Linked DNA regions of Homo sapiens. The protein of the gene in region 3 purifies or fractionates together with the protein of the main gene of each other region. This does not show direct contact. Each region holds a gene or a part of one and is shown on either strand. Other genes may lie near its edges. The genes, in order: EDC4, LSM12, ATXN2 and PABPC4.

Region 1 (6,936 bases), on a different chromosome or scaffold from region 3:
TGGCATGGTCCGAAGACCAGTCTTGTTTGCTGAGGTACTATCACCTGAGCAGAGCGGGTCTGGGACCAGAAGTCCATTGAGGTCCCCATTGTAGGCACTGGATGGCCGTGGGCTCTCTGCACTGGGGCCTGGGGACAAAGAGGGTCATTCTGATAAGGTTGCTCGACCTGCCCACAAGCCTCTCCCCTTTCAGAGTTTCCTTCAAGAACTATGAGGTGCTCTAGGAACACTCAACTGAGCAAAGCATGTCCATGAGGAGGAGGGCCCTGTGTTCATCTCTCGTTCCATAAACACTGATGTAGGCAGGACCAAGGATGAGCATGAGGCTCTTCTACCTGGGGGAGGGGTACAAGCCATCAAGGACCCTTTGAGGGCAGTGAATACTCAGGTCTGGGTCACTACAGAAGAACTCTGTGGACTGAGTGAGGGCATAGGAGGGGTCAGGAAAGACTTTATACAGCAGTTAGTGTGACCAGAACACACAAACACAGGAAGGATGGAGTGAAAACAAAGCTACAGAGGCATCAGGTATGATGCCGTGGCACTTAGACTCTCCCTGTGGGCCATGAGAACCATAAAGAGTTTCAAAAGGGAAGGTGATGTGGTCAGTTCTGGCCAGTGGGAAGATTACTCTAAGATAGCATGCAGAATGGTTGAGAATCTGGGTGAGAGAGATCAAGGCCTAGACCAATGTAGTGTCAGAGTTTGGAGAGAAGATGGGCTCCTAAGGCATGGAAGGGCACTGGTAAGATGTGGAAGGGGCTGCCCCACACAGAAATGGCTCAGAAGAAGCTATCTTGGGCAAGTAAACACAGAAGGCAGGGACATAAAGGAGCTGGACCAAAAGGAGAGAAACTATGGGGCAGCGTGTGGAGTAAGGAAAGACAGCATTTCAGTTCTTTGCAACTGGCTGGGTTTCAAACACTCTCATAGGCTCAGACACCATTTCCAAAATCCCCAGGTGGCAAGGAGCCTAGGGCTCCACATTCAGAACATAGCAAGTTTCCAGTCACAACAGTCTTTGAATTATTTTGGCGCGATCTCGGCTCATGGCAACCTCTACCCCCTGGGTTCAAGGGATTCTCCTGCATCAGCCTCCCAAGTAGCTGGGATTACAGCTCACCTAATTTTTATATTTTTAGTAGAGATAAGGTTTCACCATGTTAAGAAACCATGTTGGCCAGGCTGGTCTCGAACTCCTGGCCTCAAGCAATCCACCCACCTCGGCCTCCCAAAGTGCTGGGATTACAGGTGTGAGCCACCGCGCCCAGTCCTCAATAGTCTGAGTTCTGACCTGGTCGTCCAGTGAGAGGAGACAAGAAAGAGCTGCTTGGCAAACAAGGGAATCAAGTGCCAATCAATAAACAAAGTAGTTATAAGGAAAGCCTCCAGGCCACTTCATTCAGATCAGAGCCACTTTAGCTGCTCAGGGACAAGCTGACAACTCTCCCTTCCATGAAGGGTACCATGAGGACAACCAAAAAGCAGGCTCAGGCTGTACATGGTTGGCCATGCCAGGCTCTACCAAATCTCTGCGGAGTCTAGTCTACAAAGCAGCTGAGCAGCAGGAGAGGTCCACGCCCAACTCATGAGTAAAGAGGGCACACACTCCAGGCCTGGGACAAAGGGCCGAGTGGTCTCAGGCAGCAGATGGATTTTCTGAAAGTAGGGGTTAGTTGAATCCACCCCTAGTGAGCACCAGTGCCTGCTTCCAGAAGCAGCCAGTCTGGGCCTCCCAGCAGGTGTAAGAACAAGATCTGAGGAAACACAATTCTCCACTGTACGCCCACACCATCATCACCGGCCACTTCAGAGATCCCTAAACCTGTCAGTAAACTAGTGCCTGCACACGTGCTATTTCCTCTTCCTAATAGGTGGCTTCTCCATAGGTGCCTTGGGTGCCTTTCCTGACACCCAAGCCCCTGTTCACATTACAAGACCTAGCCCAGTCTCCCCTCTCAGACCTGCACTCTGCACTCACCAGCCTCCACCCTTCCCACGCCCATCACAGTATCGAGACACTCCTTTCTTTCAATGACAACAGTATATTACAACCCTGTTAGCTGTGTCTTGGGGAATCTTTGGGGGCAAGACTAGTTCTGAGGTATCATTAAGAGCCAAAGCGAAATATGAATGAATGGGAACCAATTAGGGCTTGCAGATATTTGTAGCATAATTCAGTCAGGGTGGTGCGGTCTGTGATTTGCCTTCATCCCAGAAAGAACACGGAATTGAGACTGGACACCTTCCTCCTGGAAATCAGTTTCAGAACGGGAGGCCTGGAGTCTTTATTCCAGAGAGAAGGGCAAGTTATGGAGGGGGACCGGCAGCTCTTCAGCATCGCGCTTAAGCCTGGGCCCAGAATTCCATATACGGAGCCCAGACCAGGCCTCTGAACCATGGAGAAAGGGAAGAGGAGCTAGGCCAGTCCCAGGAACACTAGAGACCTCGGGGCCAGGAAACCAGAGGGCCCCAGCGGATTCAGAGAAGGCGCCTCACCTTCAACCGAGACGCTGAAGGACAAGGCAGAACAGCCTGAGGACAAGATAGGGAGGGGTCACACCCAGGGGTCTGCGCCCTTCGAGGGGCACAGTCAATCCCCGTCCACCCTTACCCGCCGGGAGGATCCAGAGCTAGTCCTAAGGGAGCTGTGGGCCCCAATGGCGGTTCAGACGCGCGCCGCCCTTTTGTCAGCTCGCCTGGGGCCCACCCCCGCAACCCCCGCTCACCGCCCGCGGGCCGGTCCAGCTTGAGGATGTCCCGCAGGTGCTGCGTGGCGTCCTCGATGTCGATGCTCGCGCAGGAGGCCATGGGCCCTGCGGCGGGCGCCCCGCCCGCACCGCGTTCGTTCCGCCGCCGCCGCGCACCACGCACCCTCGCTCACCCGCCACGGGGCGAGACAGCGGGACGCCGGTCACTACACAGTCCACCCGCAGTTCGCAAACCGCCACCCGCGCAGCGTCGCTGAGCCCCGCCAACCCCACCAACCGCCTCCACTTCCGGCACCCACGAGCCGAGGCTCCCGGAACCTGCCAGGGCCGGAGAAGAAAGGTTCCGGGCTGGGGGCGGAAGCCTAAACCCCTCCCGCAGCCAGTCCCCCTCGGCGGCCCCGCCCCTGTGTCCGCGAGGTCAGGAAAGTCCCACGGGGCTGAAGTAAGCGTCCACGCACTGGGCCACCTAAAGCCCTACTCGACTCAGAAGGCGCCAGGTCCCTGCCCACTCCCAGAGCATGGACTCCGATGGTCCTGGGACGGGGTCAACTTAGCCGCCCATGCTAAGGTCCCTCAGACCCCCAGAATATGCTGAATTGGCAGGTGCCTCAGGTTCCCTTTGGGAATGGGTCGGAATAACTCAAGGCCTGAGGCTACCCTCGAGGTCATAAAACTCAGGAATTGCAAGAGCAGGGGAGATGATCCCACTACAATGACCAGTCATTGTTCCCTACTGTCCCCCAGCATCCCCTTGTCCCACCTGGCACCCTCAGGTTGGAAGAAAGAAACCACAGTTTACAAATTCTTCTTTATTGCAGACAGTTCAGGCACAGGTACATGGAAGAAGCCGTATTGCAGATTTTACACAAGGTGGTTTGAGGCAGCAGGCACCTACCTCTTCCCCACCCCCACTTCCCCAAATACACATCAGCCTAGAGATCATTCCCACTGAAATCTCCTGAGCATGCTGTCCTCTCAAACAGCACACCATCCAGCCCTGTGCCCAATGTCACCAGGCAATCTGTGGGATCTGAGGAGGTCCTTAGCCTCCACCCGTAGTGGGACAGGGGAAGGGTATCCTTTTACATGTCAGATTTAGCTGTGGTGTCCTTACCAATCCTAAAACCCTTAACAGGGCACTGACCCAAATCTTGGGTTTGGTTCTAGCCTATGGTTGCTACATTGCCACTAGGTTTATACCATCCAGAAGTCTGTGGGACAAGGGGCTAGATTTGTACTGGGCAAGGCCTTTGTCCCCAAAATGGAGAAGCAGAAACTGCCCTAATAGCTAAGACTCCCCGGAATTGGAAGATAGCATGAAGTCTGTATGCTGAGGAAGGAAGTGGAGAGAGGCCTGGCAATGTCCTGCAGCAGTCTGAGGGGTGAGGACTCCTAAAGCATGAGTCCCTCACAGACTGCCTCCTTCCACAGCTCCTGACCTATACTCCAACACAACTGGGCCTGGCTCTGTGGGCAGTGGAGGCTGGCTCTTCGGGTTACCTGCCTTTGGGTAAAGATATCCAAAGCAGATGGGACAGGAGCTGAGCTGCCCTCTGCCTGGCTTGGTGTATGTGGGGCATCCTGGATATGATCCTGATCCTTCTGGGGATAGAGCAGGCCCCTCCCTTGATACTGCTGACAACTCAGCCCGGAGGGCCTGAACGTGATGAGCCATTTTGCCAAGGCCTCTCCAGCTTCAACAGGATTCAGGATCATCTCTCCTGCTACTAGGGCCCTGAACCTACCCAGAGCAGAAGTCACAGGAGGTATCAGAACTGACTGCACAGGCTTCAGTGAGAGAAGCTTCAGGCCAGACCTGAGCTCTTCCTGCCTGCTTTCCAAAGACCAGTCGCCCTGTGGAGTGGGAGAGAACTGCCCTACACGGCTTCTGAGAGGCTAGCTGGGAGTGCTGCTTCAGCAGTTTCTCCCTGCAACAGGTATTCAGAGTTGGGGCAGAAGTGGGAGGGTGAAACATGAGAGAGACAACGGGTCTGGGTAGCTTCTGATGCCCAGCCAACTAGTAAACTAATTAAAACAATTTAAACTGTTAAGAAAATTTTTGTGGTTTTATTGTATCATGAGGCATTGAAACATCTGAACAAATCAATGTCTGGGCGGTGAGGCAGCTGCTTTCTCCTTCACTTCTTTGGGTTACTAGAGCAACTTGTCAGTAGATTAAAAAAAAAAAAAAAAAAAAAAGGACAACCTTTTGCATTACTTAAGTCTTTCCAAGGCATGCGCTGGTACAACACAAACTTCTCCCGTCAGATGCAACTAGTCTAGCATCCAAACATCATGCACAACACCTCAGTGGCAGCAGCGCACTGCGCCCACTCCCACCGCGGCCCTGCTCATTTGTGCATGATATTTGGAGCATCTGGAGGAGTGGGAATAGTATTGGGAAGAGGAGGGAGGAGGAAACAGCGTGAGTGCCTAGCTGAGAGGAGGTCAGCCAAAGTTGTGCAGGGCGAGCCTGAACATGTCATTGGTGCAAACCCAAGCATCGTTGATGTTCTTTAATAGGAACATCTGGTGGAACCCCATGATGGGGTCTTCATCCGCCTATGAGGAGAGAAAAGAGGATTCAGTAAGGGGATCAAGAAACAGGAAGGGAATTCAGTGGTAGGAGAAGAGGGCAAAAAAATGTTGACTTTAGGATCAGGCCCTACTGTCCTGAACTCAAATCCCAGTGTAGCCAAGGGGTACTTGTGAATGTGAATTGATGTAATGTATGAAACAATGCCCTGGGCACATGTAGGCCAACAATCAGCCACGCCTATGTGTGCTATGTGTGCTTAAACTGCACAATAATTCACCCTTAGCTACAGCAAAAGAGCAGAGGATGTACCTGCCTCCAAGCACATATCTCCAGACACAAGTGATCACAATTTTGAAACGAATCCCATAGTATTTACCAAGTAACTTATAGAGTATCAAAAAAACTGCAAACAATCTTGAAAACATAGGTTCACTATCCAATGATGTTTCCTGTCATGTAATAAACAGTATTTGAGATGAAAAAAAAGGGCAAGAAACCTGCAGCCAAACTGCAGAAAACTAGGATGAGACCTAGTTGAAATAGGAGCCTAGCTAACCAGCACTGTCTCTAACATCACCTGCTTTCTGGGAATTATCGTCATCAAGGAGGCAAATCAGTTGTTTGGGAGCTCCAAATTGGACAGAATCACCAGGAAGAACCTGAAGCCGGTGGGAAGCAGCAGTGTTTACTACCTTTGCCTGAGAAAGTGAACAATGAGCTCCCTACAGAGACCTCCTGAATTCTGTGCCTCTTCAGGCACAGGCACTGAGCAGGACATCCTGAACAGGCAGGAGAAACTGACAGGAAAGTCCAGGCCAGAAAGCAGGTGCCTCTGCGTCCACTGCAGAGGCCCACAGGACCACCTACACACCCACTCTGGACTCAGGAAGCCCTGTCCCGGCTAGCCTAGAGAAAGAGAGCATGTGACCATGTTATTGTAAGACACAAGCCCAGGCCGAGGGGCAGCCAATTTGTCCTGCTATTTTTGGGAAGAAGGGTGTTTTTGTAAACAGAATCTGGCTTTATTTATTTATTTAGAGACAGAGTTTCACTCTTGTTGCCCAGGCTAGAGTGCAATGGTGCAATCTCAGCTCACCGCAACCTCTGCCTCCCAGGTTCAAGCGATTCTCCTGCCGCAGCCTCCCGTGTAGATGGGATTACAGGCATGTGCCACCATGCCTGGCTAATTTTGTATTTTTAGTAGAGACAGGGTTTCTCCATGTTGGTCAGGCTGGTCTCAAACTCCTGACCTCAGGTAATCTGCCTGCCTCGGCCTCCCAAAGTGCTGGGATTACAGGCGTGAGCCACCGCGCCCAGCCCAGAATCTGACTTTAATATGCTGAAGCACAACAGGTCCTTGGAGAGTTCTTGGGGGGTCTGAGGGACCACAGGAAGTCTCTGAGAATAATAGGTCTTGAGAAGGAGGAAGGAAAATGCAAAGAGAAATAGGTGGCTCACGCCTATAATCCCAGCACTTTGGGAGGCCGAGGCAGGTGGATCACCTGAGGTCAGGAGTTCAAGACCAGCCTGGCCAACATAGTGAAACCCTGTCTCTACTAAAAATACAAAAAATTATCTGGGTGTGGTGGCGGGCAGCTGTAATCCCAGCTACTTGGGAAGCTGAGGCTGGAGAATTGCTTGAACTCGGAAGGCAGAAGTGTAGTGAGCTGAGATTGTGCCACTGCA
Region 2 (7,022 bases), on a different chromosome or scaffold from region 3:
ATCTTTTTAAAAAATGTAGGTTTAGTTTTTCTCTTTATTCCTGGATGTTATCAGTAGATCTTAAGAAGTAGCTTAACTCCCAAATAAGTTGAGAGCTTGCTTCTGCCTTTATGAAAGAGGACTTTTTAAATCTTGGAGTTCATGATGAACTAATAGTGCTGCTGGGGTTTGGGTGGTGGCGTTACCTATGAATGTCTTCAAATTGTGTATATGTGGATGTGTGCATACGTGAATATATGCATTTTCTGCTTGAAGATCTAAAGTGTTTTTCAGATTCTCGGAGGGTTTCATGACTTAGAAAAGTTTGAAAGCCACTGTCTTAAAGGTTCTTTTTTGTCTTTATGTTTGAATTTTGAGTTCTAACAGTTACATGCTTAGCATATTTTAATCTTGCACATAAAAGTTGATCTCTGGGAACCCCCAAGTCACTTTTGTGTGTGTATGTGTGAGACAGGGTCTTGCTTTGTTGCCCAGGTTGAACTTGAACGCCTGGGCTCAAGTGACCCTCCTGCCTCGGCCTTCTGAGTAGCTGGGATTACATGCATGCGTCACCATGCCTGCCCAAGTCTTTCTTTTTATTGGAGCCACTGCGCCCGGCGTTTTTTTTGAGACAGAGTCTCTCTGTGTCGCCCAGGCTGGAGTGCAGTGACGCGATCTCGGCTCACTGTAACCTCCGCCTCCCAGGTTAAGTGATTCTCGTGCCTCAGCCTCTGGAGTAGTTGGGACTACAGGTGTGTGCCACGACGCCTGGCCAAATTTTTTTTTTTTTTGGAGACAGGCACACACTGTCACACCCGGCTAATTTGTTTTATTTTAGTAGAGACGGGGTTTCATTCTGTTGCCCAGGCTGGTCTTGAACTCCTGAGCTCAGGCAGTCTGCTTGCCTCGGCCTCCCAAAGTGGTAAGATTATAGGTGTGAGCCACTGCTCCTGGCTCAATTTTTGTATTATTAGTAGAGATGGGGTTTCACCATGCTGGCCAGGCTGATCTTGAACTTCTGACCTCAAGTGATCTGCCTGCCTCAGCCTCCCAAAGTGCTGGGATTACAGGTGTCAGCCACCATGCCCGGCCCTAAGTCACTTTTTTGACAATTCCGTTTATTTAGTCAAAATTGAAGTTGATCATAATAATGCCTCAAGCCCTGTCATAGCCTGTGCTGTCCCCTGTACTTGGAACATTTTTCCTTCCAGAATGACTGGAGCCTTACCACCCATCAGCACTCAGTTAAATGGCACGTCTTCCAAGAAGTCTTCTCTGATCACCCAGGCTGAAGTAATTTGCCTGCATTATTCTCTCTCATAGTACCTTGTCCTTCACAGTTAAGGTGACCATATCATTTGTAGTCCAACCTGGGACATTTTTGAGAGTAAAGGGGAATGCTTTTATTTTACACAGGGACAACAGGTATAGATTAGGTTACCCTATTCATAGCTTTTTTTTTTTTTTTTTTTTTTGAGACGGAGTCTCGCTTTGTCGCCCAGGCTGGAGTGCAGTGGCGCCATCTCAGCTCACTGCAAGCTCCGCCTCCCGGGTTCATGCCATTCTCCTGCCTCAGCCTTCCTAGTAGCTGGGACTACAGGCGCCCGACACCACGCCCGGCTAACTTTTTTGTATTTTTAGTAGAGACGGGGTTTCACTGTGTTAGCCAGGACGGTCTCGATCTCCTGACTTTGTGATCCGCCCGCCTCGGCCTCCCAAAGTGCTGGGATTACAGGCGTGAGCCACCGCTCCTGGCCATAGTTGTTTACTTGTCTAGTGTCTGTCTCACTAAACTTTATTCTGCAGGGATGGGGACCATACCTATTTTATTTACTATTGAATATACAGAGCCTTGCACAGAGTATTTAATAAATATTTGTTGGATGAATAAGATGCCTCCAATTTTAGTAGCAGGTGCTTTTCATTAAGTCTCTTGAATTAATGTGGTGGAAGTTTTTCCCTCTAGAGGAATCTTGCAATAATGTGTATTACTTTGCCTCTCTTGGGAATGTGGTGTGTTCTGTACAGTTCAGCAAAGCAAGGAAACACTTAGGCAACTAAAATAATAGAGGGTAACTGATGCTGAGGCTAGTGAATGTCGTTACCTCAGATCTGGAGTTCCTATCTTGTCAGATTCTAGGGAAATGCCACACATTTTTTAGTGATGGCCAGGGACAGATTTGGAAGGCTATTGAGTTCATATGGGTGTTGTCTTGTATGGGATGTCCCATTCTTTGAAGCTTATAGGTTTTTGAAACCTTGGCTTAGTAATATACCTTCTACCAGAGTATAGGAGCTCTTTGAGTGTCTTCTATAAGCTCATGAAATTTTAAGACTTGTTAAATAATTTATTCCTTGGTGTTTTTTTTTTTTTTTTTTGAGATGGAGTTTCGCTCTTGTTGCCCAGGCTGGAGTGCAATGGTGCAACCTCGGCTCACCGCAACCTCCGCCTCCCGGGTTCAAGTGATTCTCCTGCCTCAGCCTCCTGAGTAGCTGGGATTACAGGCATGCACAGCCACACCCAGCTAATTTTGTATTTTTAGTAGAGACGGGGTTTCTCCGTGTTGGTCAGGCTGGTCTCGAACTCCCGACCTCAGGTGATCCGCCCGCCTCAGCCTCCCAAAGTGCTGGAATTACAGGCGTGAGCCACTGTGCCCAGCATTATTCCTAGTGTATTAAAGAACCAAATAGGCTCTGAGTTATTTTTTGGTGTTTATAGGGTATGATAAGTCTGTCACTAGATCTTTAGTGAGTAGTAAAGATCTGAAAGAGAGGTGATTTTCTGAAGTTAGAAAGTTGGCTCTTGTGACCAATGAGTGCCACCATTTAGAGGGGGTGGGGTAGTGTGGATGGGACTGTTAAGCAGGAGCTGTTAAGAAGCAGTTCTCTTCTTATGTTTGACCTCAGGTAGATATAGCTCTTGGTTAGTTTGTGGATTATCTTTGCCTTTAGGGTTTTCCTTGTTTACTAGCATTGTTGTAAACTAGCTGATTACCCAGTTTTTGAGGAAAGCAGCAGGAAGTAATAGCTTGGGGAACACCAGAAATCTTTACTTTTCTTACTCTGTGGCCTGCTTGCCAAATCTTGAAAGAGGTTTGCTGGGAAGAGGAGTCAGAAACTAAAAACTAAAATTAGGTTGGAGGGTTATCTTTGGATTTCGTTTATTCATTCTTCCGTTTGCAGAGATGTTTATGAGTAAGCTATATTGGCTTTCCCTTGAAATCAACCTTTTAGGATGCTTTGCGATTCCTTTTTGGAGATTGACTTAGAATTAGAGAGAGCCTTTTGGGCTACTGCTGAAAACAGCTATTTCGGGCAGCTATTAACATGTTGCATGAATGACGTGAAAAGTTAGTCTCATTTTTAAGATCACGGACTTGAGTTTTTCTTAAGATGGAGGATCATTTAAGCATATGGAAGGGAACTAATGTACTCTGGGATGTCTGGAAGAAAACTGTTGAAGTTTCAGTTGCTTGCAGTCTGGAGAAGCACTAGCCTACTCTATTTATTTTATTTTATTTATTTATTTTTTGAGACGAAGTCTTGCTCTGTCGCCCAGGCTGGAGTGCAGTGGCGCCATCTCGGCTCACTGCAAGCTCCACCTCCCGGGTTCATGCCATTCTCCTGCCTCAGCCTCCCGAGTAGCTGGGACTACAGGCGCCCGCCACCATGTCCGGCTAATTTTTTTGTATTTTTAGTAGAGACGGGGTTTCACCATGTTGGCCAGGATGGTCTCGATCTCCTGACCTTGTGATCCGCCCGCCTCGGCCTCCCAAAGTGCTGGGATTACAGGCTTGAGCCACCACACCCGGCCTACTCTAACTTTAGTCAAAGGTATCATCACATATTGGCCCATCTTGCTGACATAGTAAGTGATCTGCTTAATTAAACCTGTTGATAAAAACCGGATATTTGTTGACTCTGACCTAGCAGGAAATGGAAGAGAAGGGCTTATACAGGAAATACTTAATAATAGCTCAACTAGGGAAGGTATAAACTAGCAACTTCTTGGAAATTGGCCTGTTTTGCTTTCGAATGATAGTTCACTTCAGGCTAAGAAGTCTTATTTCTATCTCCAGCAGTAGCATGTAAGAGGAAGCTTGAGAGAGGACAGTAGGGTTGCAGTAGGGGGAATTCTTTTTTTTGAGACAGGGTCTCAGTCCATTGCCCGGTGTGATCTCGGTTCAAGCGATTCTCCTGTCTCAGCCTCCTGAGTAGCTGGGATTACAGGCGCCTGCTGCCACCATGCCCGGCTAATTTTTCTATTTTTAGTAGAGATGGGGTTTTGCCGTGTTGACCAGGCTGGCCTTGAACTCCTGACCTCAGATAATCCACCTGCGTCGGCCTCCTAAAGTGTTAGGATTATAGGCGTGAGCCACTGCACCTGGCCAAGTCCCCTGTTTTTCTATTACTTTGTGTTTAGCCCAAGGAACTCATAGTTTGGCAACATGAAGTACCCTGAATAATGTACAATGCTAAGTTATGTTTCGTGTGTGTGTGTATGTGTGTGTGTGTGTTCTGTTTTTTAGAGATATAGTCTCATTCTGTTGACCAGGCTAGAGTGCAGTGGCATGATCATAACTCACTGCAGCTTCGAACTCCTGGCTCATAGCCTCAAGTGATCCGCCCAAGCTTCCTGAGTAGCTGGGACTACAATCTCCCATCACCACACCTGGGTGGTTGTTTTGTTTCTTTTTAGTTAGTCTCGCACTGTGCCCAGGCTGGAGTGCAAATGATGCAGTCACAGCTCACCGCAGCCTCGACCTCCAGGGTTCGCTCAAGTGATCTTTCCACCTCGCCTCCCAAGTAGCTGGGACTACCGGCACAAACCACCACACCTGGCTAATTTTTCTTTCTTTTTTGAGATGGAGTCTTGCCCTGTTGCCCAGGCTGGAGTGCGGTGGTGCCGTGATCTCGGCTCACTGCAACCTCTGCCTCCTAGGTTCAAGCAATTCTCCTGCCTCAGCCTCCTAAGTAGCTGGGATTACAGGCGTGCGCCACCATGCCTGGCTAATTTTTTGTATCTTTAGTAGAGATGGGGTTTCACCATGTTGACCAGGCTGATCTCGAACTCCTGACCTCATGATCCACCCGCCTTGGCCTCCCAAAGTGCTGGGTTTACAGGCGTGAGCCACCGCGCCCAGCCTAGTTTTTTTTTGTAGAGACAGGGTCTTACTGTGTGGCCCAGGATGGTCTGTAACTCCTGGGCTCAAGCAATCCTCCTTCCTCGGCTTCCCAAAGTATTCGAATTACAGGTATGAGCCACTGGCCCAGCCCCTAGGTAACGTTTCTAAGTAAAGAAAAACATCTATGTTCTGTGGTCAGGGGCAGGGTAGTCTAGTAGAAAAGACTTAGGAATGAACCAAGTAGATCAGTCTTTAAAGTCATTAGACTTGGCAGATGTTAGTTAATGTCTCCCAAATTATTATTATTATTATTATTATTTATTATTTTTTTTTTGAGACGGAGTCTTGCTCAGTCGCCCAGGCTGGAGTGCAGTGGCGCGATCTCGGCTCACTGCAAGCTCCGCCTCCTGGGTTCACGCCATTCTCCTGCCTCAGCCTCCCGAGTAGCTGGGACTACAGGCGCCCACCACCACGCCCAGCTAATTTTTTTGTATTTTTAGTAGAGACAGGGTTTCCCCGTGTTAGCTAGGATGGTCTCAATCTCCTGACCTCATGATCCCCCCATCTCAGCCTCCCAAAGTGCTGGGATTACAGGCGTGAGCCACTGTGCCCGGCCCAGATTTTTTTATTGTAGCTAACTAATGCTCATTGAATTATGGGATGAGATAAGGCAGGGGAAGGAGGGCATTGTGACAAAGGGCCCATAGAAGATTTATGCCATTACACTAGGCTCTCACTTAACGTCTTTGGTAGGTTCTTGGAAACTTTGACTTTATGTATTATTATTATTATTATTACTTTGTTTTTTTTTTGAGACAGAGTCTCCGTCTGTCTCCCAGGCTATAATGCAGTAGTGCTGTCTCAGCTCACTGCAACCTCTGCCTCCCAGGTTCAAGCAGTTCTCTACCTCAGCCTCCGGAGTAGCTGGGATTCCAGGCATCTGCCACCACAGCTGGCTAATTTTTGTATTTTTGGTAGAGACAGGGTTTCACCATCTTGGCCAGGGTGGTCTTGAACTCCTGACCTCATGATCCGCCCACCTCCGCCTCCCAAAGTGCTGGGATTACAGGCGTGAGCCACTGTACCTGGCACATTATTATTTATTTTTTTAAGATGAAGTCTCACCCAGGCACGGTGGCTCACGCCTGTAGTCCTAGCACTTTGAGAGGCCGAGGCGGGCGGATCACGAGGTCAGGAGATCAAGACCATCCTGGCTAACATGGTGAAACCCCGTCTCTACTAAAAACGCAAAAATTAGCTGGGCGTGGTGGCATGTGCCTGTAGTCCCAGCTACTTGGGAGGCTGAGGCAGGAGAATGGTGTGAACCCAGGAGGCGGAGCTTGCAGTGAGCTGAGATCGCGCCACTGCACTCCAGCCTGGGAGACAGAGCGAGACTCCGTCTCAAAAAAAAAAGAAAAAAAAAGTCTTACTCTGTTGCCCAGGCTGGAGTGCCATGGCTCTATCTCAGCTCACTGCAACCTCCGCCTCCTGTGCTAAAGCAGTTCTCCTGTCTCAGCCTCCCGAGTAGCTGGGAGTACAGGTGCGCCCCACCACGTCCGTCTTATTTTTTTATGTTTTTGAGACAGAGTTTCACTCTTGCTGCCCAAGCTGGAGTGCAATGGCACGATTACAGCTTACCACAACCTCTGCCTCCCGGGTTCAAGTGATTCTCCTGCCTCAGCCTCCCAAGTAGCTGGGATTACAGGCATGTGCCACCCCACCTGGCTAATTTTGTATTATTAGTAGAGAGGGTTTCTCCATGTTGGTCAGACTGTTCTTGAACTCCCGACCTCAGGTGATTTGCCTCGGCCTCCCAAAGTGCTGGGATTACAGGTGTGAGCCACTGTACCAGGCTGTATTTTTTTTTTTTCTTTTTTTGGAGAGGAGTTTTCCTTTGTCACCAAGGCTGGAGTGCAG
Region 3 (7,481 bases):
TAAAACAGCCACCTTCAAAAATATATATAACAAAGAACAAAATAAATCACTTCTGAAAGTCATGAAAAACTATTCACACACACACACACAAAGTCAAATTATGAAATGTTTCTTAAAGCAGATGTGAATTTCCAGACTTTCAAGCATATTTTGCTATCTCGAAACTTGTCAAACCGAATGCTGCATTTTTTTTCACCCTTGCTCTCAGAGACTTATTTTCACTGTTGATACGCACAAACCTAAGTGAGGAGATTCTAGAAGCTGAAACTTATTTACAAGGAATGCAGGAAAGTGATTCAAATTCAAAGTAATTCTACAAGTACATTAACGATCTGTTCAAGAATAAAACTTCACATTACACAAATCCAACACAGTAAACAAAATTTCACCTATTCATCAGAAAGAATAAGGGCTGCCATTTAGGTCTCAAGTAAAAGAACTTAAAGCAAGGAAAAATCTAAATTAACCTTAAATTGTTGTAAAGCCTCAAGGAACAGAAAAAAGACCTTGTGGTACTAAAACATTCCAAATATCTTTGATCACTCAAACTACTCAGGAGCAAATTCTCTTATAATCTAATTTTTAAGCCTAGTAGTCAATGCAACTTAATAACCTTAGTTTTAATGTTTATATATTTGAACATGTTGAATTATCTGCCAAATCTCTTCCTAATACCTAAGAAAGTAAAAACAGAATACATCCTTTTCTATAAAAGTTGTATTTTAAATTTTTTCATTTTTCGCTAGATGCCAACGAAAAAGGGAAACTGAAGTTACCCTACTTGGGGAAACGATCACTTCATCTGAACTAGTTTGGCTAAGTAGTGTTTGGGATGCTTCAGACTCAGAGAAGGGGAAGGGGGGGCGGGGCGTGTAAAGTCAAATAACCGACTGTTTCCGCCCCCTTTGAAGGCAGCAGAATTCCTTAAAAACCAGCTGATTCCTCTTGATGGGGAATTTCTGCTGTAAATAAAAATTCTTTGGAAATGGGTTGCTGAAAATGTGTTTTCAAAAAGAAAACTCGGGTGAATGAAAAATCCTCTTATTCCACCTTCCAAAGCCCAAGATGCCTATTTAAGGAGGACGCCGGTCACCCGCCGTCAAGCCGGCGGCCTAGGCCTAAAGAAGGCACAGTAGTGCCTACAACACGGATGGACTTGAGGCACAAGGGAAATGGACTTGCGTGCCCTTGGTAAGCTCTGGCGGCACTCCCGAAGTTAAGGACACCGGCCACAATGGAATGGAGTCTATTGACGTTTCCTTCTCCCTTTGAACACTAAGCATTTTCTTAGTTCGTGAAATACGAACTGACAACCGCCCGCCACCCCCAACAGGCCCTCCTGCACAAACACACCCTCGAGTCAAACCCAGTTAGCCGGGACAACACTGAGCCCCCAGCCCCTACTACAACCCCGGCTTAGGAGGGAAAAAGACGCTAGTAAACACCCGCCTTTCTGCCTTCAGGAACCCGACCACGTCCCCTGCTGCAATCTCTCTCTCCTAGCATTTCCGAAATTGGGGCGGGGGTTGGGATAAGTGCGCAGGGTGCCCGCCCCCTGCCACCAGCACCGCCACCCCGGATCTCCAGGGTCCAGCCTGGGTCCAGCCCTCACCCACCGATGTTCCACAGGCGCCTTCTCCACTGCGGCCTCGAACAGCAATGCGGATCGGCCACCACCCGCGCGCCGGAGAGGTCTGGCGGGGGAAGGAGGAAGGCCGGGACGGGGCCGGGCACTCCCCACCCCTTCCCTTCCCCAGGTGGGGGAGGGTGGAACGCTGCCGGAGGCCACATGGAGCCCCACGATTTCAGGGGAGTTCGGGAGCCCCCGCCGCCGCCTCGGACACGAACGCAGAGGGGTGCGGGGGCCAAGGCCCACTTGTCTCCACCCCGTCCTCCGATCTTTCCCAGGACTCGGAGGGGGCGGGGAGAGAGCCCCGACAGACCCTGATGATTCCGGAGGAGCCCGGTGCCTACCCCTTTAACCGGCACGGGGGACGCGGCCCTAACTTCTCCCCTCCAGAGATGTCCCCCATGGAGGGGGACATGTTCCGGAAAACGCCACCACAGCCTCCAGACCCCTCCAACGTTCACACCTAAACCGGGAGTGGAGGAGCTGCCCGAGCATCCCCACGCTGCGGGCGGAGGATCGTGCGGAAGGGGGAGCCGGGGCTGACCATCGCCGCTACCCGAGAACCCCTCCCAACACGCGTGGGGAGGGGAGGCCGCCCGCTCCCTCCATCTTGACCGCCGGGGGAGGGGGCGGGGATGCTGCGGGAGGCTGGACAGGCCTGACAATCCCAGAGGACCCCGGCTGCGCCCACCGGCCGAGCCTCGGGGCTCAGGCCCGAGCGAGTCTCCCCCGCGCTGCCGGCCCCCAGCCCACCCCGGGTAGCCCGGCGGGTCACGGGGCGGGGACGGCGGCGCGGGCCGCGGGGGAGGGGACGCCGGGCCCGGAGCGGAGGGGGCTGGGGTGCCGACACCCACCTGCCCAGGCCGGGCCTCCCGCCGCCGGAGGTCGCCGCGACCACCGAGGAGGGAGCCGTGGCCGAGGACGAGGAGACCGAGGACGAGGACGGCGAAGGCGCGGCGGCGGGCGACGCTAGAAGGCCGCTGCCGCCGGGCTTGCGGACATTGGCAGCCGCGGGCGGCGGCTGCTGCTGCTGCTGCTGCTGCTGCTGTTGCTGCTGCTGCTGCTGCTGCTGCTGCTGCTGCTGCTGCTGGGGCTTCAGCGACATGGTGAGGGGCCCATACACCGGCTCGCACGCCGGGCGGGGACAGCCGGGAGCCGGGCGCGCCAAGGAGACGCCGGAACGCGGCGGGGACGCGCGGGCGCCGAGCGGGGAGGCGCGGGTTGGCGCGGCCGGAGGGGCGCCCGGGCTGGCGAGGGGGAGAAGGAGGACGACGAAGGGGCGGGGAGGCCCGCCGAGACCAAGGAGCCGCCGGGAGCCGGGCCGAAACGCGCCGCCGCCGTTGCCGTTGCTACCAAAACAGTCTGAGGCGGAGGGAGGCGAGCTCTGCCGGGAGGGAGGGGGGCCGGGGCCGGGCGGGGGAGGGGCGGCGGAGGGATACGGTCCCGGGGCCGCGCCACCGCCGCCCCGCCCGCTCCGCCGCGCCGGCCGCTGGAGCGAGCGCCACCCGGGCCACCTGGCTGCGGCGAAGCGGCGAGACTCGGTGGCCACCGCGGGACTCCGAGGAGCTGCGGCCGCTGAGCGCATCGGAGGGCGGGCGCGCCGAGGCGCCGGGTGGGAGCGGAGGTGCGGATAGGGACTCTTTACCGGAAGTCGGAGGGGTCAGACGGAAGCAGAACGTGAGGTGGCCCCGGGGCCGGGAGGGACACGTGAGGAGCGGGCGGCGCGCTGGGTTGCTTTCTCGGGGGTCGGGTGAGGGCCAGGCGGCGGTCCCTACCCGGATCCGCCTTCCTCAAGGCGGGTCTGCCCTTCGGGGAGGGCGTGTCGGTCTCAGCCTCTGGGGCCTGCCTGGTGTGGAGGACAGGAGAGAAGCATTTCTTCTCCTACTGTATTCCTTCAGCATCTTCACTTCTGCGGGGACCTAGTTTGCCCCCACCTGATGCAACCCAGAAAATGGACTGACTGCGAGTGCCTTGGGGCGGAGAATGTGTCTTGCTACGTGTAAAGCACCTAGAACCCTGCCAGATTCAGGGGACACAGCATCCTGCCGTTTTCCTGCCGTCCCCCGCCCGCCACACAGTAGGCGCTCCAGTGGCTCGGGGCATCTACCAGGCAGGCCGCGCTGTCCTGCCCTGCCGGGGCTGGAGTGGAGCAACCCTCCGGGGCCACCCACATCTGGGTACCTTTTCCCCACTTTTTCCACCCCAGCCGCGCACAGTCACCAGAAAACTCTTTTAGGTATCTGACCTTCATTTGAACCTATGTTCCCTCACTTGAACTTCTTTTTCCTCATTCATGAGATTCTAAAGGAAATATATGGGATTGGGACTGGTAGAACTACGGATAATGGGATCTCCCTCGGTAGAGACAGAGCCGACCTCAAAACAATGTGCGAACTTTAGACCTTGGACCCTTTAGAAGTTTTAATTTAACTTACCCAGCCAGCACAGTAGACTCTTTTTAAAATGTGTTGCAGTTAAACTGGAAGCAAGTAGAAAGTAGGTAACTTTTTTTTTTTTTTTTGAGCAGTGAATCTATTGTTTTTTAAAGTGAAATGACTTCAGGAAATAATAGGGGAAGAAACACCAAAATTCCCCTCAATGTCCTAGAACTGTCCAGATAAAGGTAAAGACTTAGATAAACGTGGAGAATGATTGAACCAGCAGTTTTCAGTAGTCCAACTGAAATTAACCTCCTAGATAGTCCAGGCAAAAATGATCATTGTATTCTGCCAATGTAGGAAATCAGTTTTATTTCCCATCTAAGGTAAAAAGTAGATCAAGGGACCATTGCAAAACCCTTTAAAAATTAACCTAGCCTAGCCAACATGGTGAAACCCCGTCTCTACCAAAAATATAAAAATTAGCCGGGTGTGGTGGTGGGCGCCTGTAATCCCAGCTACTCGGGAGGCTGATACAGGAGAATTGCTTGAATCCGGGAGGTGGAGGTTGCAGTCAGCCGAGATCATGCACTCCAGCCTGGGCGACAGAGCGAGACTCCGTCTCAAAAAATAAATAAATAAATAAATAAATAAAGTAACCTAAAGGAAACTGGAACTAAAAAACCAGTTGAAACAAAAAAATACCTGTACCCGGCTGTGGTACAGGCCAGGGCTGCTGTGAGGGGAAGCTCCTGGAGAGGGTGACATGGGGCAGGGACCCAAATGAGCATGGGCATGAGGATCCTGGGGAGAAACGCTCCAGGTGGAGGGCACAGCGAGGGCAAAGGCTCTGAGGGGGGAGTCTGAGGAACAGCAAGGAGGCCTGCAATGGAGCAGGTCGTCAATGGTGTCCCGTTATATTCTTTCTTTAATAGAAATACAAACACTTGGCCTGGCGCGGTGGCTCACACCTGTAATCCCAGCACTCTGGGAGGCCGAGGCGGATGGATCACCTGAGGTCAGGAGTTCAAGACCAGCGTGGCCAACATGGTGAAACCCCATCGCTACTAAAAATACGAAAAAATTAGCTGGGCGTGGTGGTGGGCATCTGTGATCTCAGCTACGCAGGATGCTGAGGCAGGAGAATCGCTTGAACCCAGGAGGCGGAGGTTACAGTGACCAAAGAGGGCACCACTGCACTCCAGCCTGGGCAACAAGAGCGAAACTTTATCTAAAAAAAATAAAAATAAAAAAATACAATCACTTTTCTCTGATTGGAATCAAGGTCCCAGAATACAATCTTAAGAACAAGTTTTGGCCAGTGTGGTGGCTCACGCCTGTAATCCCAGCACTTTGGGAGGCAGTGGCCGGTGGATCACCTGAGGTCAGGAGTTCGAGACCAGCCTGGCCAATTTTTAGTAGAGCCCATCTCTACTAAAAATACAAAAATTAGCTGGGTGTGGTGATGCGCACCTGTAGTCCCAGCTACTTGGGAGGCTGAGGCAGGAGAATGGTGTGAACCTGGGAGGCGGTGCTTGCAGTGAGCGGAGATCACACCACTGCACTCCAGCCTGGGCGACAGAGCGAGACTCCGTCTCAAAAAAAAAATAGTAAGTTTCAGGTCGATGGAAGTTGAATAAGAAGGCCTAGGCTGGATACAGTGGCCTACACCTATAATCCCAGCACTTTGGAAGGCCAAGGCAGGCAGATCCTTTGAACCAAGGAGTAGGAGACCAGCCTGGGCAACATAGTGAGACCCTCCTCTCCATAAAAAATTTTTCAAAATTAAAAAAAAAGAAGGCCTGAAGCTGACATAGCTGAGAAAGTTTGTTTTAACTCACTACCATTGAATAAAAACTTAATAGTTTTATCAAGATATAATTTACATACTATGAAATTCACCTATTTTGTGTACAATTTAATGATTCTCAGTAAATTTACACAGTAAATTTGCACAACCATTGCCACTAATTTCAGAACATTTCCATTACCCCAAAAAGATCCTTCACGATGGTGGGCAGTTTGGTTCCCATCCTTAGCCCCAGGCAACCACTCATCTACATTTTCTCTCTATGGATTTGTCCAGATTTTTCACATAAGTAGAATCTTACAGCATGCAGCCTTTTGTGTCTGCCTTCTTTCATTTGTCATAATGTTTTTGAGGTTTATCTAAGGTTGTGGCATGTAGCAGTATTTCATTCCTTATTATTGCTATGTCATATTCCATGTATGGACATACCACATTTTGTGTCTACTTTCCAATTGTGGATGTTTAGATTGTGTCAACTTTTTGAGTATTATGAAAATGCTGCTGGGGCTGAGATTGGTGGCTCACTCCTGTAATCCCAACACTTTAGGATACCGAGATGGGAGGATCACTTGAATACCCCGGAGTTTGAAACCAGCCTGGGCAACATAGAGAGACCCTGTCTCTATGAAAAACTTTAAAAATAAAAAATTAGCTGGTTGGCTGGGCGTGGTGGCTCATGCCTATAATCCCAGCACTTTGGGAGGCCGAGGTGGGTGGATCACCTGAGATCAGGAGTTCGAGACCAGCCTGGCCTACATGGTGAAATCCCGTCTCTACTAAAAATACAAAAAATTAGCCAGGCGTGGTGGCGGGCACCTGTAATCTCAGCTACTTGGGAGGCTGAGGCAGGAGAATTGCTTGAACCCAGGAGGCGGAGGTTACAGTGAGCCGAGATTGCACCATTGCACTGAAGCCTGGGTGACACAGCAATACTCTGTCTCCAAAAAAAAAAAAAAAAAAAAATTAGCTGGTCATGGTGACACGCACCTATAGTCCCAGCTACTAGGGAGGCTGAAGCAGAAGGACCGCTTGAGCCCAGGAGATCGAGGTTGCTGTGAGCTACGAATGCGCCACTGCACTCTAGCCTGGGCAACAGACCAAGACCCTGTCTCGTTCAGTTAATAGAGTTGCTAAAACACACACACACACACACAAAGAAGAAGAAAGAAAAATAATAATGCTGCTATGAACATTTGTGAACATATATCTTCATGTGGATATATGTTTTCATTTATCTTGGGTTGGTTCCTACAAACGAAATTGTTGGGTGATGTGGTAAGTTTATTTAGTTATTTTTATTTTATTTATTTATTTATGGAAACTACCTTTTCTCTGGACTTCAGAAGGCTTAAGCTTTATATGAAAATATCAGAGTAGGCTGGGCACGGTGGCTCATGCCTGTAATCCCAGCACTTTGGGAGACTGAGGTGGGCTGATCACCTGAGGTCAAGAGATCGAGACCATCCTTGCCAACATGGTGAAACCCTGTCTCTATTAAAAATACAAAAATTAGCCAGGCATGGTGGCTCACACCTGTAATCCCAGCACTTTGGGAGGCCAAGGCGGGCAGATCACGAGGTCAGGAGATCAAGGCCATCCTGGCTAACACAGTGAAACCCCGTCTCTACTAAAAATACAAAAAAATAGGTGGGTGTGGTGGCGG
Region 4 (7,362 bases), on a different chromosome or scaffold from region 3:
TGCACTCCAGCCTGGGCAGCAAGAGTGAAACAGTGTCTCAAAACAAACAACAACAAAAAGAACCAAAAGCTAAAAAATAACACCACCTGCCAGCCAAAACACTTCTCATCACTAATCGCAACAAGGATGCCCAGATCTGGTGGCCACTTTTCCTTAAGGCTATGATGGCATCTCCTAACGGTGACATCACCCAGAACCTCCTCCATGAGGGGATTTAGACAGGGTCAGAGCAGTGGAACCTGCTCCTTGCCTCAGGACAACATCTCACTTAAAGGGGGGACAAAATTCCCCAACTCTGCCGCTCCACAAGCTCAACTGTTTCATTAGCCGGGAGAATTTATTTTCACTCATTATTTCCAACAACTTTCCCCACCCCCTTCAGAAGGTGGGCCTCATCTGTGTGGGGGGTAGTTGGGAAAAGGGGAGATGACAAGACCGATCCAAGTCAGGAACAGTCCAGGGAAAGAGGACTTTGCTTGTGATGGCTATCAGAGATAGATAGCTGGGATCGCAAACTATTTCATTAATTAGCAGTAAAGGAGCCCACTTCAACAACAGCTCCTCGTCTATTTCCAGACAGCACTGCACAAGGCAAGCCGGCTTAGTCTGACAAATCTGGCTGCACTTATTTATAGCAGGGAGAAGTCCTGCAGAAGTATGTGTTGGCAGACACACTGACCAATAGCTTCTGCTATCTCTAAGTGACACGACTTTTGTTCAAAAGTCAGTAAGGCAGACAACAGCTAATGTGGTACATTATCCCTTAAAAAGACCACACTCAGCTACCTTTGCGCTCCTATGGCCATGGACAGAACTCAGCTTGGAGCACACTGGATTGACAGTAGCAATACCTAGTCCCTCTCAACATGTCCAATTCTCTGGTCTCAGCCGCAACCTGGGCAGGTAGTAACTCTGGGCCTCAGACAGAAAACAAAGGGGGGACCCCAAAACTAGGGACCTGGAGATGCTTTGCCATAGAATGGCTTGTTTCTCCCAGTAATGATCTCTGCAGTTGTTCCCTTTTAATCTGGAGTCACGTGCAGCCTCTGATCAGGTTTCCTCTGGCCTCCCTCCTGCCACGCCTGCAGCATACCTCTCTCCATGCTCCACGCTAAGGCCACAATCTGAGGTGGCAGAGCACTGTGCTGGGAGTCCTAACTTGGCTTCCAACTTTTTGCATTCGTTCTCCTTCTCAGGAGTCCCATTTTCTTCAGATTAGATGAAATAAAAGGGCTCTGACTAGTGCAAAGCACTGTTACAGCTGAGGTGACAAATGACACCAGATTTTCAAGTGACGCTTCCCTAAACTACCTCCACGACACTCTACAGCACAGAGCCTGGATACCATTTGTCCAGAGTAAAGCACTTCTCCACTCCAGTGGCAAACACACAGACCAAGGAGGTGGCCTGGCACACGCAGCTTTTGTGGCACTAACCTAAGTCTCTGCGAAAGTTTAACGCACAGAAACCTTCCCCCTGCTTCCTGCCTGCCCTGACTGATCCTTTATCAGCACAACATCAGGTAGTCAAGGTTAGTAAAGGTGGCGGAGCGGGCAGGAGCTTTACAATGTAAAACTTTCGCGGGGAATTGTGTTTCAAACGTCCCGCCTTTTTGGCCAGCCTGTGAGGGGCACAAGCAAGGATCTCTAACAGCCCAGCCCCACTGACAAGGACCACACGCAGTGGAATGCCAGTGGCTTCACTCTAATCCTGTTTTACAGTCTCCTTGGTTTCCAACCCCACTACCAGCAACACTAATAAGTAGCCCAAGGTCACCCAGTTAGCAAGTGGTAGAAACAAGATTGAAACTCGAGTCATCTGATGCCAGGTCCGCGTTCTCAATCTCCGCACCCTGCTCCCAGCTTCGGTGGCAACATGCTGTCGTGATGCCGCCCTCCTCGGCAGGAGGGCCCTGCCAGAAGACGACTCCCGGGGTCCTCCGGGCTCCCACGCACGTGTGGGCACAGCTTCTACTCACCGTCGGCCGGCTGCTGGAAGTTGACGTAGGCATAGCCCAGGGAGCGGCGGGTGATCATATCGCGGCAGACCCGGATGGACAGCACAGGCCCCGCGGGGCTGAACTTTTCGTACAGCATGGCCTCGGTGACGTCCGAATGCAGGTCGCCCACGTACAGGGAGGCCATGGGGTAGCTGCTGGCCGCAGCGTTCATCTCCCCGCCCCCCACCACCCCGAGCCCCGCCAGGAGGACTTCTTATCGGGCCCGCCGCAGGACAAAGGGGCGCCTTCGGAGCCCGGGCCCGCGCCGCGGCTCACAGGTGGCACCGGCGCGGCGAGGACGAGCTGGAGTCGGCGGGCTTGGAGACGGGACGGAAACGGGAGGCGGGGGCCGGCTCCCACGGCCGCAGCACCGCAGACAAAAGGCTCTCCGCACAATACGGCCCTCCCCGCGACTTTGCACTTCTCCGCGGTCCTGGTGCGAAGCTCCAAATTTCAAAAAATCAAAGTAGGAAAAAAATTAAACGGGGAATCCCCTTCCGAAGGGTAAAAATCCTTTAAGAGGCGACCGGACGCTGCCCACGGCGGCCTCGGGGACACGCGTTTCTCTATAAATATAGGCCTCGGGCTCCGGCGGTTTAAGATTACAACCGCCGGGGCAGAGGGAAACCAAATCTTTGTGGGCGCCGACTCGGCGAGCCCCGGGCGGGCGGCGAAGGGCAGCACGGACACGTGGTGCGCCGGGGCAGGCGCGGGGCGCGGGGCTCGGGGCCCGAGCGGGGGGAGGGCACGGCGGGCCGGGCGGGCGGCTCACCCCCGGACCGACGGACGGAGACCGACGGACGCCAAGCGCTGCGGCGGCGGGCGCGGGGCAGGCCGGAAGCGTACGAAAGTGACTTCCCCGCGGGTTCTCCGAGGATTCGTTTTTTCTTTTCCTTTTTTTTTTTCAGGATTTTGAAGCGTTTTCAGATTTTTTTTATCTTTTTCTCTTTTTTTCCTCAGGCTGCGAAGCCCGAAAGCGGCGGAGGCGGCAGCGACCCGGGGCGGAGAGAGGCGGCCGAGGGAGCCACCGCTCCATTTATACCCGCCCGCCCCGGGCGCTGCTGGTCGAAGGGCGCCTCGCGACCTGGGCGCAGTCGTGCCCGCCCACTCGGCCCGGGGGCCCGAGGCGGGGCGGCCACGCGAGAGCGACCCGGCGCGGCCGCGCGGCGCTACAGCGACCCCTGGCGCCGGGAGGACCGCCCAGCTCGCGGCTGCGGGAGACCCCAGGGCCCCTTTCTATAACAAATAAATCTTAACACCCTCCCACCCATCACCCGGGAATGGAACCTAGGAGCCATTTAACCTGCACACACGCATGAGGTTTAAAATTAAATGGTATGGGGCTGGGTGCAGTGGCTCACGCCTGTAATCCCAGCACTTTGGGAGGCCGAGGCGGATGGATCATGGAGGTCAGGAGATCGAGACCATCCTGGCTAACGCGGTGAAACCCCGTCTCTACTAAAAATACAAAACATTAGCCGGGCGTGGTGGCATGCGCCTGTAGTCCTAGCTACTCGGGAGGCTGAGCAGGAGAATAGCTTGAACCCGGGAGGCGGAGGTCGCGGTGAGCCAAGATCGTGCCACTGCACTCCATCCAGCCTGGGCAACAGAGTGAGACTCCCTCTCAAAAAAAAAAAAATTAAATGGTATGCCAAATTGTGAAATGAAGGTGACATAAAATAAGTTAAAATAAAATAATAGGTGGTCCAATAGGTAAATGTCTGGGTCCAAATACAATAAAGATTTGAGAAGTTTTCAGGATACCGTTGACCTAGAGGTAGAATCGTCAGGAACTAGAAATGCAAGCAGTATCCATGGGTGATGGGATTTTCTGAAAAGATGAGCACATTTTGGTAAAGCTTCAATGAAACCAAACACAAGCATCCCCTCTATTGACATGCTGGTGGCATTCCCGGACATTTAGTTTGTGTTTAAGGGCACAGAAATACTTTCTGTTCCTATGTTTAAAGTTTCTTCTAGGCTTGGATAATTATAAAAAGACTTTTCATCTGCATGAGAGTCTGGCAGGTCATTTGAAAGTCGTATCACAGGCCAGGCGTGGTGGCTCACGCCTGTAATCCCAGCACTTTGGGAGGCCGAGGCGGGCGGATCACTGAGGTCGAGAGTTCGAGACCAGCATGACCAACATGAAGAAACCCCCGTCTCTCCTAAAAATACAAAAAGTAGCCAGACATGGGGGTGCATGCCTGTAATCCCAGCTACTCAGGCGGCTAAAGCAGAAGAATCGCTTGAACCCGGCAGGCAGAGGTTGTGGTGAGCTGAGATCATGCCATTGCACTCTAGCCTGGGCAACAAGAGCGAAACTCCGTCTCAAAAAAAAAAAAGTCATATCACTTTATAGGACTATGTTATATGGGACTGTCCACACGCATTACAAGATATATAGCATCCCTTCTTCCATAAGTGCCAGGAACCACCTTTGCCATCACTGTGAAAACCAAAAACAGAAATTGCCAAAAGACACAGACATCCCCCTTCAAAAGCACTGATTTAAGTAAATGACTAAAGAAATATGTGTATTTATATATTAATTAATTCAAATAAATGGTTAATCTGAGCCTACTCTATGCCAATGTCAATACAGGGGCTGGAGATACCATGGTGGACCAGAAGTCACTCCCTCTCTCATGGAGTTTATATTCTAATAACTATATTAAATCAAGAAACATTGGCTGGGCACGATGGCTCACACCTGTAATCCCAGCACTTTGGCAGGCTGAGGTGAGCGGATCACCTGAGGTCAGGAGTTCGAGACCAGCCTGGCCAACATGGTGAAACCCCATCTCTACTAAAAATACAAAATTAGCCGGGCATGATGGCACGTGCCTATAGTCCCAGCTACTTGGAAGGCTGAGGCAGGAGAATCGCTGGAACCCAGGAGGCAGCGGTTGCAGTAAGCTGAGATCATGCTACTGCACTCCAGCCTGGGTGACAGAGCGAGACTCCGTCTCAAAAAAAAAGGAACATTTATGGGAGTGCTCCTTCTATAGATTCCCTCCTCAGGAAAGTCTTCCTAGACCTCCTGTGGTCTAAAGTAGCCGTCAACATTGTTAATCACTATCACACCAACTTGTCTTCTTGTCTTCAAGCCTGTTATTCCTACCCAAAATTATGTTGTTCTATATCTGTTTACCTGTTTAGTATCTATCTTTTCCACATTGGTATATAAGCTTCATGAGAACAGGAATCTAGAATAGTGCTTAACATAGCACGTACTAAATGTTCAGTAACTGGCCAGGCAGGTGGCTCACACCTATACTCTCAGTGCTTTGGGAGGCTGAGGCAGGAGGATCGCTTGAGCCCAGACATTTGAAACCAGCCTGGGCAACAGAGTGAGACCCTATCTCTACAAAAAAAAATTTTCTTTTAATTGGCTGGGTGTGGGGACACATGCCTGTGGTCTCAGCTACTTGGGAGTCTGAGGTAGGAGGATCGCTTGAGGCCAGGAGTTGAAGGCTGTAGTGAGCTATGATCATGTCGCTGCACTCCAGGCTGAGCAACAGAGTGAGACTCTGTTACTAAAAAATAAATAGATAAATAAATATTCAATATATGTTTGTGTGTGTGTGTGTGTGTGTGTGTGTGTGTGTGTGTGTTTTCTTGTTTTTTTTGTGGGGGGGGTATGAAATCTTCCTCTGTCACCGAGGCTGGAGTGCAGTGGTGCAGTCTCGGCTCACTGCAACCTCTGCCTCCCAGGTTCAAGCAATTCTCATGCCTCAGCCTCCCAAGTAGCTGGGATTGCAGGCATGCGCCACCACACCTGGCTATTTTTTTTTTTGAAACCAACTCTCGCTCTATTGGCAGGCTGGAGTGCAGTACTGCGATCTAGGCTCACTGCAACTTCCGCCTCCCGGATTCAAGCAATTCTCCTGCCTCAGCCTCCCGAGTAGCTGGGACTACAGGTGCGTGCCACCACACCTGGCTAATTTTTGTATTTTTAGTAGAGATGGGGTTTCACCATGTTGGCCAGGATGGTCTCAATCTCTTGACCTTGTAATCTGCCCGCCTCGGCCTCCCAAAGTGCTGGGATTACAGGGGTGAGCCACCACGCCCAGCCTTTTTTTTTTTTTTTTTTTTTTTGAGACAGAGACTTGCTCTGTCACCCAGGCTGGAGTGCAGTGGCGTGATGTCGGCTCACTGCAACCGCCACCTCCCGGATTCAAGTGATTCTCCTGCCTCAGCCTCCCAAGTAGCTGGAATTACAGGCACCCACCACTATGCCCAGCTACTTTTTGTATTTTCAGTAGAGATGGGATTTCACCATGTTGCCCAGGCTGGTCTCCGACTGCTGACCTCAGGTGATGTATTCGTCTCGGCTTCCCCAAGTGCTGGGATTACAGGCGTGAGCCACACACCCAGCCTGTGTATTTTTTTTTTTGTTTTTTTGTTTTTTTTGAGACTGGGTCTCGCTCTGTTGCCCAGGCTGGAGTGCAGTGGCGCGATCTTGGCTCACTGCAAGCTCTGCCTCCCGGGTTCACGCCATTCTCCTGCCTCAGCCTCCCGAGTAGCTGGGACCACAGGTGCCCACTACCACGCCCGGCTAATTTTTTGTATTTTTTAGTAAAGATGGGGTTTCACTGTGCTAGCCAGGATGGTCTTGATCTCCTGACCTCGTGATCCGCCCACCTTGGCCTCCCAAAGTGCTGGGATTACAGGCATGAGCCACTGCATGTATTTTTTTTTAAGCAACAAAGTCTCACTGTGTTGCCCAGGCTGGAGTGCAGTGGCCTGATCATAGCTCACTGCAGCCTCAAACTCCTGACCTCAAGCGATCCACTTTGGCTTCTTAAAGTGTTGGGATTACAGGCATAAACCACTGCACCTGGCCTAAATATTTGTTAAATAAACAAATGAATACTAGGCACAGATGAGCAAAACCCACACAAGCTCTGACCTCCTGAAGCTTATTGTCTATTGGGGGAGCTTATTACCTATATTACTTTGGGCAAGCTAGTTCACATCTCTGACCCTCAAATTTCTCATCTGAACTATACTAATAAACCTTATTAACAATTAAAAGGGTTATTGTGAGAATAAATGAATACATATAAATACACATAAATTGTTTGGATTAATTTTTTTTTTGAGATGTCTCACTTTGTCGCCCAGGCTGGAATGCAGTGGTGCGATCTCAGCTCACTGCAACCTCTGCCTCTCAGGTTCAAGCGATTCTCCTGCCTCAGCCTCCCTAGTAGCTGGGACTACAGGCATACATCGCCACACTGGGCTAATTTTTTGTATTTTAGTAGAGACAGGTTTTCACAATGTTGCCCAGCCTGGTTGCGAACTCCTGAGCTCAGGCAATCCGCCCCCACCTCAGTCTCCCAAAGTGTTGGGATTAC

Evidence for each region.
Region 1: the proteins of ATXN2 (region 3) and EDC4 purify together in Homo sapiens (affinity purification with mass spectrometry; 2 studies listed by BioGRID and IntAct, with this or other methods). This does not show direct contact.
Region 2: the proteins of ATXN2 (region 3) and LSM12 purify together in Homo sapiens (affinity purification with mass spectrometry; 4 studies listed by BioGRID and IntAct, with this or other methods). This does not show direct contact.
Region 4: the proteins of ATXN2 (region 3) and PABPC4 purify together in Homo sapiens (affinity purification with mass spectrometry; 4 studies listed by BioGRID and IntAct, with this or other methods). This does not show direct contact.

The regions. Positions count from the first base shown.
Region 1 is NC_000016.10:67,869,137-67,876,072, reverse strand, and holds the start of EDC4 (enhancer of mRNA-decapping protein 4), read right to left. Parts: upstream 3,022-6,936; 5' UTR 2,812-3,021; coding exon 2,730-2,811; intron 129-2,729; coding exon 1-128. Other genes in the region: NUTF2 (nuclear transport factor 2), read right to left, coding at 5,160-5,273. UniProt on the Homo sapiens protein: In the process of mRNA degradation, seems to play a role in mRNA decapping. Component of a complex containing DCP2 and DCP1A which functions in decapping of ARE-containing mRNAs. Promotes complex formation between DCP1A and DCP2.
Region 2 is NC_000017.11:44,056,654-44,063,675, reverse strand, and holds part of LSM12 (protein LSM12), read left to right. Parts: intron 1-7,022. UniProt on the Homo sapiens protein: Nicotinic acid adenine dinucleotide phosphate (NAADP) binding protein. Confers NAADP sensitivity to the two pore channel complex (TPCs) by acting as TPC accessory protein necessary for NAADP-evoked Ca(2+) release.
Region 3 is NC_000012.12:111,596,300-111,603,780, forward strand, and holds the start of ATXN2 (ataxin-2), read right to left. Parts: upstream 3,017-7,481; 5' UTR 2,736-3,016; coding exon 2,485-2,735; intron 1-2,484. UniProt on the Homo sapiens protein: Involved in EGFR trafficking, acting as negative regulator of endocytic EGFR internalization at the plasma membrane.
Region 4 is NC_000001.11:39,573,781-39,581,142, forward strand, and holds the start of PABPC4 (polyadenylate-binding protein 4), read right to left. Parts: upstream 3,011-7,362; 5' UTR 2,172-3,010; coding exon 1,979-2,171; intron 1-1,978.